2 separate regions of the Homo sapiens genome follow, and region 1 is linked to region 2. Evidence: fine-mapped expression QTL. A gene starts in region 2. The other region holds a variant in brackets. All regions are shown on one strand. Distances are between the middles of the regions.

The links. PIP is the estimated chance that this variant, and not a neighbour inherited with it, causes the effect. A credible set is the group of variants that fine-mapping cannot tell apart.
Region 1: its variant is the best candidate, but not a certain one, in a credible set for the expression of MEIOC in prefrontal cortex (CommonMind, PIP 0.58).

What each region holds. Positions count from the first base shown.
Region 1 is chr17:44,621,348-44,629,679 of GRCh38, reverse strand. No RefSeq gene overlaps it. Among named protein-coding and RNA genes, the nearest start is that of LINC01180, 25 kb to the left of the region's middle. RefSeq lists an enhancer at 826-985 and a silencer at 1,096-1,215. The variant CA/A (reference allele first, on the strand shown) is at 3,554.
Region 2 is chr17:44,651,506-44,659,837 of GRCh38, reverse strand. It overlaps MEIOC (meiosis specific with coiled-coil domain), which reads right to left and starts at 3,370. Exons shown (of 8, transcript NM_001145080.3): 1 at 3,156-3,370; 2 at 2,577-2,711. The coding sequence starts at 3,224. RefSeq lists a silencer at 3,357-3,566.

The DNA.
Region 1 (8,332 bases), 30 kb after region 2:
TGTCATGGCCTCCCAAAGTGCTAGTGAAATGGGAAGAGTTCCCTTGTCCCCCTTGCAGGGCATACGATAGGGGTGTGGCTCGCTTCTTCAGTGCCCCGCTGCTCAAACTTCTAGGGGAGACATACAGACAGGCAGGCTGTGGGGCTCCGGCCCTACCGCAGTGTCTAAGAGTGAATGCTTACAGCTCCTGGCGCCCCAGTGGGCGCGTGTTACAGGGTGCTCTTTCAGCTTTGCTGTCGATAAGTGGCTTGTCTTACCAGCTCAATTAGACTTCTTCCTTGGCGCAGAGACCGAGAACAGAGGGCTTTCTGTATCCCGGGGTTCTTCCCTTGGTGTACCAGAATCGGATCACATGTGGGCTTGGAGTATGAGTGCAAGGTTTTATTGAGTGGAAGTCGCTCTCAGAATATGGGACAGCCAGAAGGTAAATGGTTGTCGCCTAGGAATCAGGCCGCTCGGTGGCCCGCGCTCTCCTCTGACTGCCTCAGCCAAACTCTGTGTTGCTCTGCCTGATCAGTGGCCTGCCAGCATGCCGGTGCCTATCAGTGCGTTCCTCTCAACGCCTAGCCAATGTGTGTGCCTCCGCTGACGTGCTCCTCCTCAACATCCAGCGGCTTGGCTTGGCTTTCCTTGGGGGGGGTAGATCTCGGGTTTTTATAGGCACAGGATGGGGGCGTGGCAGGACAGGGTGGACTTGGGAAACGCAACATTTGGGCAGGAAAACAAAAATGCCTGTCCTCACCTAGGTCCGTGGGGGTGGAGCCCTAGCCAAGGACTACGCCCTCCTGTACCCAGCACTTCCGTTACCCCTTTCTGTATCATTTAAAGGCACCACACACTTCCCTTCCTAGCACTTACGTATCAGTTTCAACAGAAGAGAATGATTTCCTGGGTTCTCAGTTTTTCTCCCTGACTCGGGGTACCAGCCCAGTGTCTAAAGGCTCTTCGGGGTGGCGGTGGGCCGTGTTTTTCTTTCTCTCTCTCCTCTGATTGGGACAGAAATGTCTTACTCGCCTGAGTGAGCAGGGCACACAAGCAGGCGGGCTCTCTCTCCGGCCGGCTTTGAAGCCGACTAATTAGGGCTTGGGCTGTCACAGCTGGCTTCCCCTGCGCCTCCCCTGACCCTGCCCCTGCCGCTGCCCCTGCCTCCCAGCCTGAGAGCTCCTCCCCTGCTGCCTTGTCTTCCACGGCCGACTGGTGGCTCTGCCAAGCCATCCGGCAAGGCCCTGGGATCTGAGGCCTGGAAGGGCCAAGGCAAAAGCAACCGAGAAGGGACAAGATGAGGCGTGGGACATGGAGCGAGCCCACAGACCACGGGGTTTCTAGAGGACTGCCTCTTTCTGGAACCCCTCATTCATAAGGAAGCCTGGAAGAGAGCCGCCTGGGCTAGGGACTGAGCCGTGGGCCCTTTATTTGAAAGCCAAAGCTTTCCGAAGGCTCCAGCCTCTCAGCCTGGCCCTTATAATTAGCCCCAATCAAAGTGTTTATGTCAGGGCCTACTGCGGAACTCAGGGCCCCATGATTTCATTCCAAACCTGGGGGGAGGAGAGGGGAGTGAGAGGGACTTGTGTTGGTACAAAGAAAACAGAGGGATGGGTAAGAAAGTTGGTGAGTGAAGAGGAGGCCGTCCTGGAGCAGGGAGGACAATCAGCCTCCGTTTGGCCATCAGCACAGGGGTCAGGAATCCACCTAGAGGAGCTGGTGCCCCAGCATCCTGACCTGGGCCCGGCCTGCCTGCCTTCTGGGCAGGCTCTGTGGGTGGGTGGGCTTGTGCCAATCGGAAATGGCTCGGATATAATTAACCCAACTAATCACCAGCCTCAGCCCTGTGGGAGGGGAGGGCACAGCCCATAGCCACGGCCCCCCCAGGAAGCTCCCATCTCCCCATGCTCCCTCCTCTGACTGGGGCCTGGGGTGTTCCAGGCTCTGCAGCTGCTTTGGATGGTAGAATCAGAGGGCGGGCAGGGAAGGGATGTGGGAAGAGACATGTTGCTTATTCTTATCTCTGGCCTCAAGGGGGATGTGACCGGAGGGAGTGTGCCTGAGTGTCTGAGCTGGCAAGGGTGGGTGGGGGGTGACTGAAGGGATTGTGGGGGAGGGCTTGGAGAGAGACTCCCAGCCATGGCTCCCAGGTGGCACTGGCTGTGTCCCACACTCAGTTAGCACTGCCCTCCTGTCTAGCCCTCCCGGGGAACTCTCCCGAGTGGGATACAGCTTGTAGGGAATTCTGTGTACTGGGTTTCGTGTCCTGGGCAGGGCAGGTGGAGTGTGGCATCTGAGTTCATATCTCCCTTGCGAACAGTCCTGCGAGGCCTCCAAGGGGTATCCCAACACCCTTCCTCCCTCAGCAAGTGAAGCTTTCCAGGATCTGGACCTGGCTCCTCTCTCCAGTTTCACTTCTCTGCACTTCTGGGCTCCGGCCTCGGGACTCTCACCTTCTCAGACCAACCATACCAGTGGCCTGAATGCTCTTCCCTTCCTCTGATCTGAACATTAACTACCAGTAGCCTCAGAACTTGCCTCAGGTCAGGTGGCCCCTCTGCCGTCAACCACACCTGTCCAACCCTCTGACACCCTCTGTCCCTAGCATCGTGTTCTCACTTGCCAGAGCACGTCACATTCTTTTTAGTTATTTGTTGCCTTTCTTCAGTGTGACCTCCTTAAGGAAAGTCTGTGTTTGGTGTGTCTTTTATCTCTGTATATCAGAACCTAGCAAGATGCCTGGCGCATATGGGTGCCCAAGATCATAGGCTCAGGAGCCAGGCTACCAGGGCTTGAATTCTGCCTCAGCCATGGCTAGCTGTTGACCTTGAGCAAGTTCATTCACCTCTCTGTATTATGTGTAAATGAGGATAGTAATTAATTGTACCTACCATGTAACTAGTTTGAGGATTAAATTAAATAAAGTGTTTAAAACAATGTTCACCACATAGTAAACACTTAGTAAAGTCTTGCTGGGCTTATTCATTCATGTGTTGGCTCAGTGGATGTGTCTTTAGTACTTACCATGAGTTAGGCACTTGCTAAGCTCAAAAGAGGCACAAATGCAGTCCCTGCCACATGCAACTTCCTATCATTGAATGAATACATGGATAAGTATTTGGTGTGGTACTTGTAGGTTTGTTATATGTTTTGTTAAACAAACTCATATAAATGTTTGAGAATGTGTCCAGCTCAAATATTGAATAATTATGTATCTATTTGGATGGCATAAAACAAGCAATGAAGTGGGGGTAATCCCCTATAAACCTGACAGATGAGCCGGACGTGGTGGCTCATGCCTGTAATCCCAGCACTTTGGGAGGCCAAGACGGGCAGATCATGAGGTCAAGAGATTAAGACCATCCTGACCAACATGGTGAAACTTTGTCTCTACTAAAAATACAAAAATGATCTGGGTATGGTGGCGTGCACCTATAGTCCAAGCTACTCTGGAGGCTGAGGCAGGAGAATCGTTTGAACCTGGGAGGCGGAGGTTGCAGTGAGCCAAGATCGTGCTACTGCACTCCAGCCTGGAGACAGAGCAAGACTCCGTCTCAAAAACAAAACAAAA[CA/A]AAAAAAACAACCTGACAGATGTAATGGCGATTGGAGCCTGTGGAAAAGCTTGTCCGGGGCAGAGGGTCTTGGAAACCTCCTGCCCAATCTTCATTGTTAATGAGAATGTCAAAAAAAAAGGTTTTTTTTACAAAGCAAAATAATTACTCTCATAGAAATATACAATAATCGTGTCAAAATTTTTATTTAACTCATTAATTAGTGAAGGAACCAGTAAGATGTTACAGTCAGTTCAAAGGACGATCCAAAGAGCAGAGACGTATTTAGGCCATCCAGAATGATGAAATAGGCTGGGCGTTGTGGCTCACACCTGTAATCCCAGCACTTTGGGAGGCTGAGGCAGGTGGATCACTTGAGGCTAGGAGTTCAAGACCAGCCTGGCCAACATGGCAAAACACTGTCTCTACTAAAAATACAAAAATTAGCCAGGCATGGGGGTGCATGCCTGTAATCCCAACTACTAGGGAGTCAGAGGGATAAGAATCACTTGAGCCTGGGAGGCGGAGGTTGCAGTGAGCCACGTTCGCACCATTGCACTCCAGCCTGGGTGAACGGAGTGAGACTCTGTCTCAAAAAAAAGAAAAAAAAAAAAAAAAAGAATGATGAAGTAGCAACCTGGGCAACATAGTGAGACCCTGTCTCTTCCAAAAATTTAAAAAATTAGTCAGGCATGGTGATGTGCACCTGTAGTCCCAGCTACTCAGGAGATTGAGGCTGCAGTGAGCTAAGATCATGCCTCTGCACTCCAGCCTGGGTGACAGAGCAAGACCCCGTCTTAGAACAAAACAAACCAAACAAAAAGAGTGATTAAGTAGGCACGGCACAGTGGCTCACATCTGTAATGCCAGCACTTTGACAGACCAAGGTAGGAGGATCACTTGAGCCCAGGAGTTCAAGACCAGCCTGGGCAACATGATGAGATCCAAAAAATAATCTACAAAAAATTTTATCTACAAAAAATAATTTTAAAAAATTAAGGATGGTGATGCACACCTGTAGTCCCAGCTACTCAGAAGGCTGAGGCAAGAGGATCACTTGAGCACGGGAAGCTGAAGATGCAGTGAGCCATGATCACACCACTGTACTCCAGCCTGGGCAACAGAGCTGTCTCAGAAAAAAAAAAAAAGATGAAGTAAATCTGCTTAATAGATGCTAAATTGGTCAATAACCACTGAGCAATAATCAATTGCATATGCACCAGGCAATTTGCATTTCTATGGACAAGAATTATTTCCATTGATTGGGTGGTAAAATAGCTCGATGACCATAAAACTAGAAAATAACACACAAGGACAGACAATAATCTTTTTGACCATATTGGAGTCTTTCACAACTCTCCTTGAAAAGAAGTTCTGTACTCAGGTATTTCAAGATGACAAGTGCCACTCACCTCTTTCAAAGAGCTTTAGTGTCAGTAGGGAGCCCAGGGCCAACCAAAGAGAGCTGGGAATCTGCCCACAGTCTCAGGCAGGAATAGCCTTTGTCACCTATTCTTCTCCACCCCAGCACTCTGGCTCCTGTCTCCCTCTCTTCCTCTTTCCCATTCCACCACCATGTCCTGTCAAACTGTGCAGGCAATATATTCACCCCTCTACATGGTAGTCACCATTTATTTTATTTTATTTTATTTTATTTTATTTATTTTTGAGACAGAGTTTGGCTCTGTTGCCCAGGCCAGAGTGCAGTGACAGGAGCTTGGCTCACTGCAACCTCTGCCTCCCGGGTTCAAGTGATTCTCCTGCCTCAGCCTCCCGAGTAACTGGGATTACAGATGCACACCACCACACCCAGCTAATTTTTTGTATTTTTAGTAGAGTTGGGGTTTTGCCATGTTGGCCAGGCTGGTCTTAAACTCCTGACCTCAAGTGATCCGCACTCCTCAGCCTCCCAAAGTGCTGGGATTACAGGCGTGAGCCACCGTGACAGGCCTAGCCACCATTTATTGAATATCTGCACATTCTATGTGCCAGACACTTAACATTCATAATATCATTTAATGTTCTTTGTTGTTGTTGTTTTAATTGAGACGAGATCTCACTCCATCACCCAGGCTGGATACAGTGGCGTGATCATAGCTCACTGCAGCCTTGAACTCCTGAGCTCAAGAGATCCTTGTGCCTCAGCCTCCCAAGTAGCTGGGACTACAGGCGTGTACCACCAAACCCGGCTAATTTTTAAAATTTTTTTGTAGAGTTGGGGTCTTGTTATGTTGCCCAGGCTAGTCTCAAACCCCTGGGCTCAAGCAATCCTCCTGCCTTGGCCTCCCAAAGTGCTGGGATTACAGGCACGAGCCACCACACCCAGCCTCATTTAACATCCAAAACTACAAAATGAGGGCTCTCTTTACCTCAAATTACAACATATTTAAATAACTGATGTTCATGAAAGCTGCTGTAAGGGCATCAAACTAGCCAGAGTGGAGCAAAAGTAGTCAGACTCTTAACCACAATACCAGAAATAGCAAGTGGGGTTATTTCTCATGCCAACTGTAATTAATTGGGTGACTACCTGGAGTACTGTGGTGAGATGGATTCTGAAGCATCCTTTTGGCTTAGTGGGAGATAGTGCTGGGATCCACTAGTGATGTCTGCCATGGTCACAGAATCAAAGAATGGAAGGGTAGGCACGCGGGCCAGATTTTTGTCAGGCTTGCTTTGTGTATTGTCTCCTGCATCATCTTCTGAACACCTTACTGATGTTGCTGATGGCAGCTACTCCCTTTAAGGGCTGAATCCTCAGCGTCTGGATCATAATGCTAGTTTTCTAGGTCTTTGCTACTCAAAGTGTGATTCCAACTGCGTTCTGGCCCCTCCTCTACCCTTCCAACAGTGCCATCACCTGGGAGCTTGTTAGAAAAGCAGGATCTTGGGGCTGACCTCATACCTTCTGAATCAGAAGTTGCATTTTAACAAGATTCCCAGGGAATTTGCACATTCAAGTGTGAGGAGCACTGATCTTTTATTTCATTTTTTTTCAGATGGAGTTTTGCTCTGTCACCCAGGCTGGAGTGCAGTGGTGCAACCTCGGCTGACTGCCAACTCCGCCTCCCAGGTTCAAGTGATTCCCCTGCCTCAGGAGAGTAGCTGGGATTACAGGTGTAAGCCACCTCACCTGGCTAATTTTTGTATTTTTAGTAGAGATGGGGTTTTACCATGTTGGCCAGGCTGGTCTTGAACTCCTGACCTCAAGTGATCTGCCCCCCTCGGCCTCCCAAAGTGCTGGGATTACAGGCGTGAGCCACCACGCCCAGCCAGGAGCACTGATCTTGAGGACTGCTTTTTTCAACTGCACCTGCCCCCACCTCAGCAGCCAGAATTATTTTCTTCCAGCAGGGTACTGGCTCAGTCCCAGTCTAAGTATTCCCAGCAGACCCTAACACTTAACCCAATGTTTACAGGCTATTTCGGACTTTGAGACATCCTCCCCAACATTAGAAAAACCCTGCAGAATTCTCTGGCTTTTCCCACTATGGGTGTGAGGGCCTGTGGGCCTGCTGGGCCCACCTCTACAACATGGAATCCTTCCCTGTTTTCGGAGACTCTGCAGAATCTCCCTGGGGCCTCAAGAATGCAGCCCAAACTTTACACTCTAGCCTTTGGGACCCTTGCCCCTTCTCATAGCAGCCCGGGGAATTGGGGTGGAGTTGGACAGAGCAAAGACATGGAGGAGAAATAGTTGCTGAATCTGGGAGCAATAGCTGTTCATTCAATCATTAGTTCAACCAGTGTTTGTTGAAAATTATTGTGTGCCAAGCACTAGTGATATGGCAATGAGTAGAGCATGGTCTCTGCTCTTGAGGAAAGTGGAGCTATTAATATATACAGATCGCCGGGCATGGTGGTTTACGCCTGTAATCCTAGCACTTTGGGAGGCCCAGGCAGGCGGATTATCTGAGGTCAAGGGGTCGAGATCAGCCTCACCCACATGGCGAAACCCTGTCTCTACTAAAAATACAAAAATTAGCCAGGTGTGATGTCACATGCCTGTAATCCCAGCTACTCGGGAGGCTGAGGCAGGAGAATTGCTCGAACCCAGGAGGCGGAGGTTGCCGTGAACAGAGATCACACCACTGCACTCTAGCCTGGCAACAGAGTGAGACTCTGTCTAAAATAATAATAATAATAATATATACAGATCATTGCAATATCATGTGATACAAAAGGCAGACACTAGGGTTGTCAGGAAAAAGAGGGGGCAAGGGCATTCCATGCAGAGAGAACAGTATGGGCAAAGCTGCAGAAGAATGGAAGAATGTGGCATGATCAGGGAGCGGTGAGTACGCATGGGACAGAGGATGAGTATGGGGAAGAGTGTGGCAGGGCTGGTTAGATGGAGGATTTGGGCTGACCCCTGCAGAATTTGGATCTCACTTTGGCTTCCTTGGATTTATAGAATGTGTGTGAGCCATCCAGCCTGCTCTTAGCACCAGAACTTACTTCTATACTGACTCGAGCCAGTCAGAACCAGGAGGCATTTATGCACACACGTGCATGCACACCCCAGAGAACACATCAAAGTCAGACTCCCCAGTCAGTGACTGACTGGGTTTCATCCCTACCGACACCCCCTGTTCACACTAGTGGGAGCAGGAATGGTCAGTTAATTAACTTCCCAGGAAAAACTCTAGGGCAGGACTTTGGGTCTCCTTGACCTGAAAAACGGATAGAAATGGAGAGAGGGCTGGCTACACAGATGTACCAGATCTGCCTGTGTGAATACCTGTGTGTGTGCATGTGGATGGATATGGGTGAGGCTATACCCGCACACCTCCAGGGAA
Region 2 (8,332 bases):
CTTTTTATCTTTCTTTCCTAATTTTATCCTTTGAGTTCTAAAGTTATCATCATAGGCCCACTCTTATGTGTGAAGTATCCAAAGTGACATAAATAATTGTTCATCTTTTTGAAATAGTTGCTTAAACAAAAGGAACATTTTCAGATTATGTAATGTCAAATGAATAAACAGTATTGGAAATTGAAAATATTTTGGGAGTATTCTTTCAAGTACATTTTACATTTTAAAATACATTTTGAATATTACAAATAAAATCCTTTTAAAGGACTGACTTAACTTTTGTATTCTTGGGTTAAAACAACTAAAGTAATGTGGTGGATTCAAACAATCATACTTGAAATATCTGCATCCCTTTCGTTAACAGAGGCCAGGAAATATGCAAATATTTGAGTGGGCATATTAACTGGATTAACTTTAAAATGTATCACTTATATCCTTAACATACTTAAAACAGTGAACTGAAATTAAATCCAAATAAATTTTAGTCCGGATGTAAACACTGCAGAGAGCAGTGGAACTATGGTCTGGGTTCCACTTGAGCTTTGTCATTTAGGGCACAAATCAAGCTCTCTGAGGCTCAGTTTCTCAATCTGTACAGTGGCATAATAATATACAAGATTCTTAGTGTGGATTAAATAAAATAATTTATTTCTAGATATTGTTATAATTCAAAGTACAACAATATCAACATTGATGTCCTGGTTAAATAATTTCAAATGAAAATTACTTACATTACCCAAGCTTTATTTCCTTTGATTAATAAATCTAAATGTCTTGGTGAGGTAAGTGGTAGCATATAATTTAAGACATTGTTAAAACCAGAAAATAAAGGAGTAAAGTGAAATTTTCACCTTTAAATTATCAAAAATATGTTTGTACCAACTTGCAATAAATGCCTGAACGAAAAAAAACATATTTTAATCTTACTAAATAATGGATTTTCTTACATTTCTGGAATTATGTTATGCTAAGGACAAGATGGAAACGAATCAATGAAAAATCTTATTCTTCAATTTGTTTTCTTTTTTCTTTTTTTTTTTTTTTTGAGAGGGAGTCTCACTCTGTCACCCAGGCTGGAGTGCAGTGGCATGATCTTGGCTCACTGCAACCTCCACCTCCCTGGTTTAAGATTCTCCTGCCTCAGTCTCCCAAGTAGCTGGGATTACAGGTGCCTGCCCCCACACCCGGCTGATTTTTGTATTTTTAGTAGAGATGGGGTTTCGCCATGTTGGCCAGGCTGGTCTTGAACTCCCGAACTCAGGTGATCCACCCGCCTCAGCCCCCCAGAGTGCTGGGATTACAGGCACGAGCCATGGCGCCCGGCCCTTAACTTATTTTCAAAGCAAAGTATGTATTCTGCAAACACTGTATTTAAAAGATTGTAGCCGGGCGCGGTGGCTCACGCCTGTAATCCCAGCACTTTGGGAGGCTGAGGCGAGCGGATCACGAGGTCAGGAGATCGAGACCATACTGGCTAACACAGTGAAACCCCGTATCTACTAAAAATACAAAAAAATTAGCCGGGCGTGGTGGCGGGTGCCTGTAGTCCCAGCTACTCGGGAGGCTGAGGCAGGAGAATGGCGTGAACCTGGGAGGTGGAGCTTGCAGTGAGCGGAGATTGCGTCACTGCACTCCAGCCTGGGCGACAGAGCAAGACTCCGTCTCAAAAAAAAAAAAAAAAAATTGTTCCTGGGCTGGGCGCTGTGGCCTGAAATCCTAGCACTTTGGGAGGCCGAGGCGGGAGGATGGCTGGAGCCCAGAAGTTCGAGACCAGCCTGGGGAACATGGTGAAACCCGGTCTCTAAAAACAATACAAAAATTAGCCGGGCATGATGGCAGGTGCCTGTAATCCCAGCTACTGGGGAGGCTGAGACGGAAGAACTGCTTGAACCAGGGAGACAGAGGTTGCAGTGATCCGAGATCGCACCACTGCACTCCAGCCTGGGCAACAGAAGGAGACTCCGTCTCAAAAAACAAAACAAAACGGCTGGACGCGGTGGCTCATGCCTGTAATCCCAGCACTTTGGGAGGCCGAGGTGCGCGGATCACCCGAGGTTGGGAGTTCGAGACCAGCCTGACCAACATGGAGAAACCCTGTCTCTACTAAAAATACAAAATTAGCCAGGCGTGGTGGCGCATGCCTGTAATCCCAGCTACTCCGGAGGCTGAGGCAGGAGAATAACTTGAGCCCCGGAGGCAGAGGTTGAGGTGAGCCGAGATCGCACCACTGCACTCCAGCCTGGGCAACAAGAGCAAAACTCCATCTCAAAAACAAAAAACAAAAACAAAACAAACAAAAAAAACAGCCGGGCGTGGTGGCGCGTGCCTCAGGAAGCTGAGGCACAAGAATCGCCTGAGCCCGGCTGGCGGAGGTTGCAGTGAGCCGAGATGGCGCCACTGCACTCCAGCCTAGGAGACAGAGCAAGACTCTGTCTCAAAAAAAAAAAAAAAAAAAAAAAGTTTTCCCTGGTTTTCTCTTCCTTAACTGTGGAGCCATTAAACACCTATGAATCGGTGGCTCGAGTAAATCCATTTGAGAATAAATCGTCTAACAGAGGCAGAGTTTACTAAAGGACCTGCGATGTGTAGCAATCGTAGAAGGAAGCGGAGCCAGTCAACATCACGCTGCCGAAGACGTCGGTTAACCTGCTGCCGGCGTCGGCGCCGAGGTTCCAACAGCGATTCGCACCTCCGGGGAACGCGACTTTGGGCTGCAGCACACGGGAATAGGAAATATCAGAAAGTGGTCACGAGGGTGACGCCGGAGCTGAAACGGCCCGACACCTGTTCTACCTCGGCTGTTCGGCTCAATTCCGAACCCTCTCAGAGGACACGAATGTGGGGGCCCGCGCTTCCAGCCTCGGGATTCTCACTCTCCCCTCGGGCCCCCTGAGTGCTGACCCCGAGGGGCGCCCCTCCCCGGCCACCGCCTCAGCGCGACGGCTGCCTCCCGGGAATCGCGGCGACCCGCGCTCCGTCCGGCCCGTCCAGTCAGCCCGCGCCGCGCCCCCCGCCCGCCCGCCCCGTTCGGCCTCCCCACCGACGACCCGCCTCTGCCGCCCCGTCTAGGGACGCGCCCCCTCCTCAGCCTCTCCTCCTCGTCGCCTCTTGCAAGTCTGGCCGCCCCCTGGACCCTGCCCTTCCTCATCCATTACCTCAAGTCCTTCCTCCCTCAGGCCTGAGGGGTGAGGGCGCGGGCAGGTGTCTCCGCGTCTCACCTCCATGGGGCGCCCCCCAGCCTCTCCTGGACTAGGCACAGCTCCTGGGGTACGGGGGTGATGGGGGGGGCGTCCAGGCCCGGCTCCCTCAGCCCGCACCCCGCCGTCTCCGCAGCCGCCTCCGCCGCCCGGGCGCTGCCTGGAGCCAGTGTGCGGGTAAGGGAAGTCCGAGCGGGGAGGGAGGGGCGGGGGCAGAGGCCGTTACCTGGCCTGCCTGGGGCTCGCGGCTCGGCACGCGACACGGCACAGGCGCGCCCCGCCCCGCTGTGAGGCCCGCCCCTCCCGTTTCGCAGCCCGCCATTGGTCCGATGCCCATCCAATGGGCGACCACTCCAGGCTCCGTTACCCCCCAGAGACAAGGAGAGGAAGGGGCGGTTAGCGGACCACGCTCTCTCGCCGCTTCTGAGCTTTTCCCGCTCAAAGTAAATGTGTTCGGGATTGGCCCGGACTGGCAGGCACCGGCCCGATGATTTGCTGATAGGGCAGCGGAGAGGCCGGTCGTGGAAGGTTGAAAGAGCTAAAGAGCGCAGCCCTACCGGGTGGGAGAGGTGTTGGAGGCACTTGGAAGATTTGAGAAGTCGCTCAGCAACTGGCTTATCCTCCAAAACCTAGCTGTTGCGCACATTTCATTTGTCCGACATTTCATATTTGTTCCTTAGTCCCTCCCGTAGCTTCAGAATCCGTTGGAGCTGCCCAGAGACTGATATATCTTGTACCGGTTTGGGGAGGGCGAGGAGCAACTTGTGGATTGGGTGTTGCTGGGAGACCCCTTTTTGAGGGAGAGCTGCCCTGTGTCCTAAGCCCGGGCTTTCAGTCCGGGTTAAGGCATTTAAGTGTTAATGTGACTTTTGAACAAAGTTCGCTGTGACCTTTTTGTTCGTTTTTGTTTGTCTGTGTAAAACAGGGTCTTGCTCTGTCGCCCAGGCTGGAGTGCAGTGGCGCTATCATAGCTCGTTGCAGCCTTGAACTCCCGGGTTCAAGCGACCCTCCCGCCTCAGCCTCCCGAGTAGCTGGGGCTGCAGGCACGCGGCGCCACCACTCCTGGCTAATTTTTTAATTTTTTTGTAAAGCTGAAGGGCGGGGGGGTTGGGTCTCCTTATGTTGCCCAGGCTGGTCTCAAACTCCTGGTCTCGAGCGATCCTCCCGCCTCAGCCTCCCGAGTAGTTGGGGCTACAGGCGCGTGCCACCACTCCCAGCTAATTTTTTTTTTTTTTTTTTTTTTGGTGAGATGGAGTCTCACTGTCGCCAGGCTAGAGTGCGGTGGCGCAAAGGCTCACTGCAACCTCCGCCTCCCGGGTTCAAGCGATTCTCCCGCCTCAGCCTCCCGAGTAGCTAGGACTACAGGCCCACGCCACCACGCCCCGCTAATTTTTGTATTTTTAGTAGAGACGGGAATTTCACCATGTTGTCCAGGATGGTCTCGATCTCTTGACCTCGTGATCCGCCCGCCTCGGCCTCCCAAAATTCTGGGATTACAGGCGTGAGCCACGGCGCCTGGCCCTAGCTAATTTTTTAATTTTTTTGTAGAGCTGGGGTTGGAGGTGGGGATGGGGGTAGGGGGTTGGATCTCCTTATGTTGCTCAGGCTGGTCTTGAACTGAACTCTTGGCCTGAAGTGATCCTCCGCCTCGGCCTCCCAAAGTGTGGGATTACAGGTGAGAGCTTACATAAACAAGCCATTCCAGGCACCCAACAAACCATTCACATAGCAGTCAGATTGGGGATGTGATGGTCTCAGAGAAATGCTAGTTTTTGTCCCTAGACACTGCTAAAAAATCAGATAGTTGAAATATAAAAGAAGTAAACACAGTAAGCACCTTTAGGCTGTTTTTATATTTAAAATCAAAACTTGAGAAATGAGCACTTAAGTGGAAGATACTGTTTTAACTCAGACACGAATGGAAGTAGGAGGATGAGTTTTATTGACCCATATTGTCCTGATAGTTACTTCAGGTCTCTACTCAGCTTTGAGTTCAGAAAGCTCACCAAGGCTGGGCGCAGTGGCTTGTGCCTGTAATCCCAGCACTTTGGGAGGCCGAGGCAGGAGGATTGCTTGAGCCCAGGAGTTGCCCAGCCAGGGCAACATAAGGAGACTTCGTCTCTACAAAAAAATTAACAATTAGTTGGGTGTGGTGGTGTGTGCCTGTAGTCCCAGGTACCTGCACTTGGGAGGCTGAGATGGGAGGATCGCCTGAGCTGGAGAGTTGGAGGATGCAGTGAGCCATAATCACTCCATCACACTCCAGCCTGGGCAACAGAGCAAGACCCTGTTTCAAAAAAAAAAAAAAAAAAAAAGGAAGAAAGAAAAGAAAAAAAGCTGCTGGACTCACACCTGTAATCCCAGCATTTAGGGAAGCAAAGGCAGGAGGATAGATTGAGCCCAGGAGTTTGAGATTTGCCTGGGGAATATAGTGCTCCACAAAAAGGAAAAACAAAATGTGCATGCACACACACACACACACACACAAACACACACACACGCACACACACTTAAAAAAAGCTGACCAGGTGGTGTGGCTCTAACAGTTACATTTCTCTGCCTCAGCCTTAAAGTTGCTGGTGTAGGGCTCATTGCATTGAGGACTACTGGCTTTTTCCCCCTCTCCTATACTCCCTAGAAGCATTTTGAAAAGCTATGAATCCCCTTATGTATTTTTATAGTAAAATATACATAAGATTTGTCGTTTTTAAGTGTTTGGTTAAGTGGCATTAAGCACATTCATAATGTTGTGTAACCATGACCGCTCTACAGTTTCAGAACTTCATTAATCACAAACAGAAACTCTGCAGCATCCCATAAATAATTATTCCCCATGCCCCCTTCTCCCAGTTCTGGCAACCACCATTCTACTTTCTATCTCTATGAATTTGACTACTCTAGGTACCATATATAAGTGGAATCATACAATATTTATCCTTTTGTGCCTGGCTTATTTTACTAAGGTAAAATAAACCTTGTCATCAAGGTTCCTTCATGTTATAGCATATACCTGAATGTCATTCCTTTTTATGGCTGACTAAGGTTCCATTGTATGGATATACCACATTTTGTTCAAGCATTCATCTGTTTATGGACACATGGGTGGTTTCCACCTTTTTTTTTTTTTTTTGAGTCAGAGTCTTGCTCTGTGCTGCAGGCTGGAGTGCAGGCGCAATCTTGGCTCACTGCAACCTCCCCCTTATCGGAGGAATCGTTCAGATGATTCTCCTGCCTCAGCTTCCCCAGGAGCTGGGATTACAGGCATGTGCCACCAAACCTGGCTAATTTTTTTTTTTTTTTGAGACAGAGTCTTGCTCTGTCACCCAGGTTGGAGTGCAGTGGCATGATCTCAGCTCACTGCAACCTCTGCCTCCTGGGTTCAAGTGATTCTCCTGTCTCAGCCTCCTGAGTAGCTGGGATTACAGGCATGAATCACCATGCCTGGCTGATTTTTGTATTTTTAGTAGAGACAGGGTTTTGCCATGTTGGACAGGCTGGCCTCGAACTCCTGACCTCTGGTGATCCGCCTGCCTCAGCCTCCCACAGTGCTGGGATTACAGGTTTGAGCCACCGTGCCCCGCCTAATTTTTGTATTTTTAATAGAAATGGGATCTCACCATGTTGGCCAGGGTGTTCTCGACCTCTTGACCTCAAGTGATCTGCCTGCCTTGACCTCTCAAAGTGATTACAGGCATGAGTCACCGCGCTTGGCTCTCAACTTTTCACTATTGTGCGTAGTACTGCTAGAAACATTGGTGTACAAGTATTTGATTAATTTTTTTTCCAATTATTTTGGGTATATACCTAAGAGTGGTATTGTTGGGACATATGGTAATTGTATTCGATGTCTTGAGTAATTCCAAAATGTTTTACACTGTGGCTGCACCATTTTACATTCTCACCAACAATGCATGAGAGTTCCCATTTCTCCACATCCTCACCAACACTTGTTATTTTCTTTTTCTTTTTCTTTCTTTCTTTCTTTTTTTTTTTTTGAGACAGAGTCTCCCTCTGTCACCCAGCCTGGAGTAGAGTGGCACGATCTTGGTTCATTGTAACCTCTGCCTCCCAGGTTCAAGGGATTTTCATGCCTCAGCCTCCCGAGTAGCTGGGATTACAGGCACGCACAACCACGCCTGGCTAAATTTTTGTATTTTTAGTAGAGACAGGGTTTTTCCATGTTACCCAGGCTGGTCTCGAACTCCTGAGCTCAGGCAATCCGCCTGCCTCGGCCTCCCAAAGTGCTAGGATTACAGGCGTGAGCCACTGCACCCAGCCTATTTTTTCTTTTTAAAATTTCTCTCTCTATAGATATACATATAGATAGATATAAATAGATATAGAGAGATCTATCTCTGTATATCTATCTATATATATCTATCTCTATATATAGACAGGGAGATATATCTATAGATCTATATATATCTATATATCCCTGTATAGATCTATATATAGTAATCTATGGTAATCTGAAATTACTATATATATGTATTACTGTATGTGTGTGTATATATATATATATGTATACACACACACACAGAGATTGAGAGAGAGAGATGGGATCTTGCTCTGCTGCCCAGCGTAGACTGGTAGACCACAGTGGCATGATCATAGCTTACTGAATACTCAAACTCCTGGCTTCAAGTGATCCTCCCCACTCAGCCTCCCAAAGTGCTGGGATTACAGGCACCACACCCAGTCTCTTTTTCTTTCTTTAAAAAAAAAAAAAAATATATATATATGTATATATATACATACATATATATATATATATATATATATTTTTTTTTTTTTTTTTGTAAAAACAGGGTCTTTCTGTGTTGCCCAGGCTGGTCTTGAACTTCTGGCCTCAAGCAATCCTCCCAAAGTGCTGGAATTACAGGTGTGAGACATTGCACTCAGCCTTTTTGTTTTGTTTTCTTTCTTCTTCTTCTTTTTCTTCTTCTTTTTTTTTTTTAAAAAGCCAGTTGGATACAGTGGCATGCTCCTGTAGTCCCAGCTAGTCCGGAGCCTGTAGTGGGAGGATCCCTTAAGCCCAGGAGTTTGAGGCTGCAGTGCGCTGTGATCATGACACTGCACTCCATGCTGGCGTGCATGAGAGATGAGAGACCCCATCTCTCAAAAAAAATTTTTTT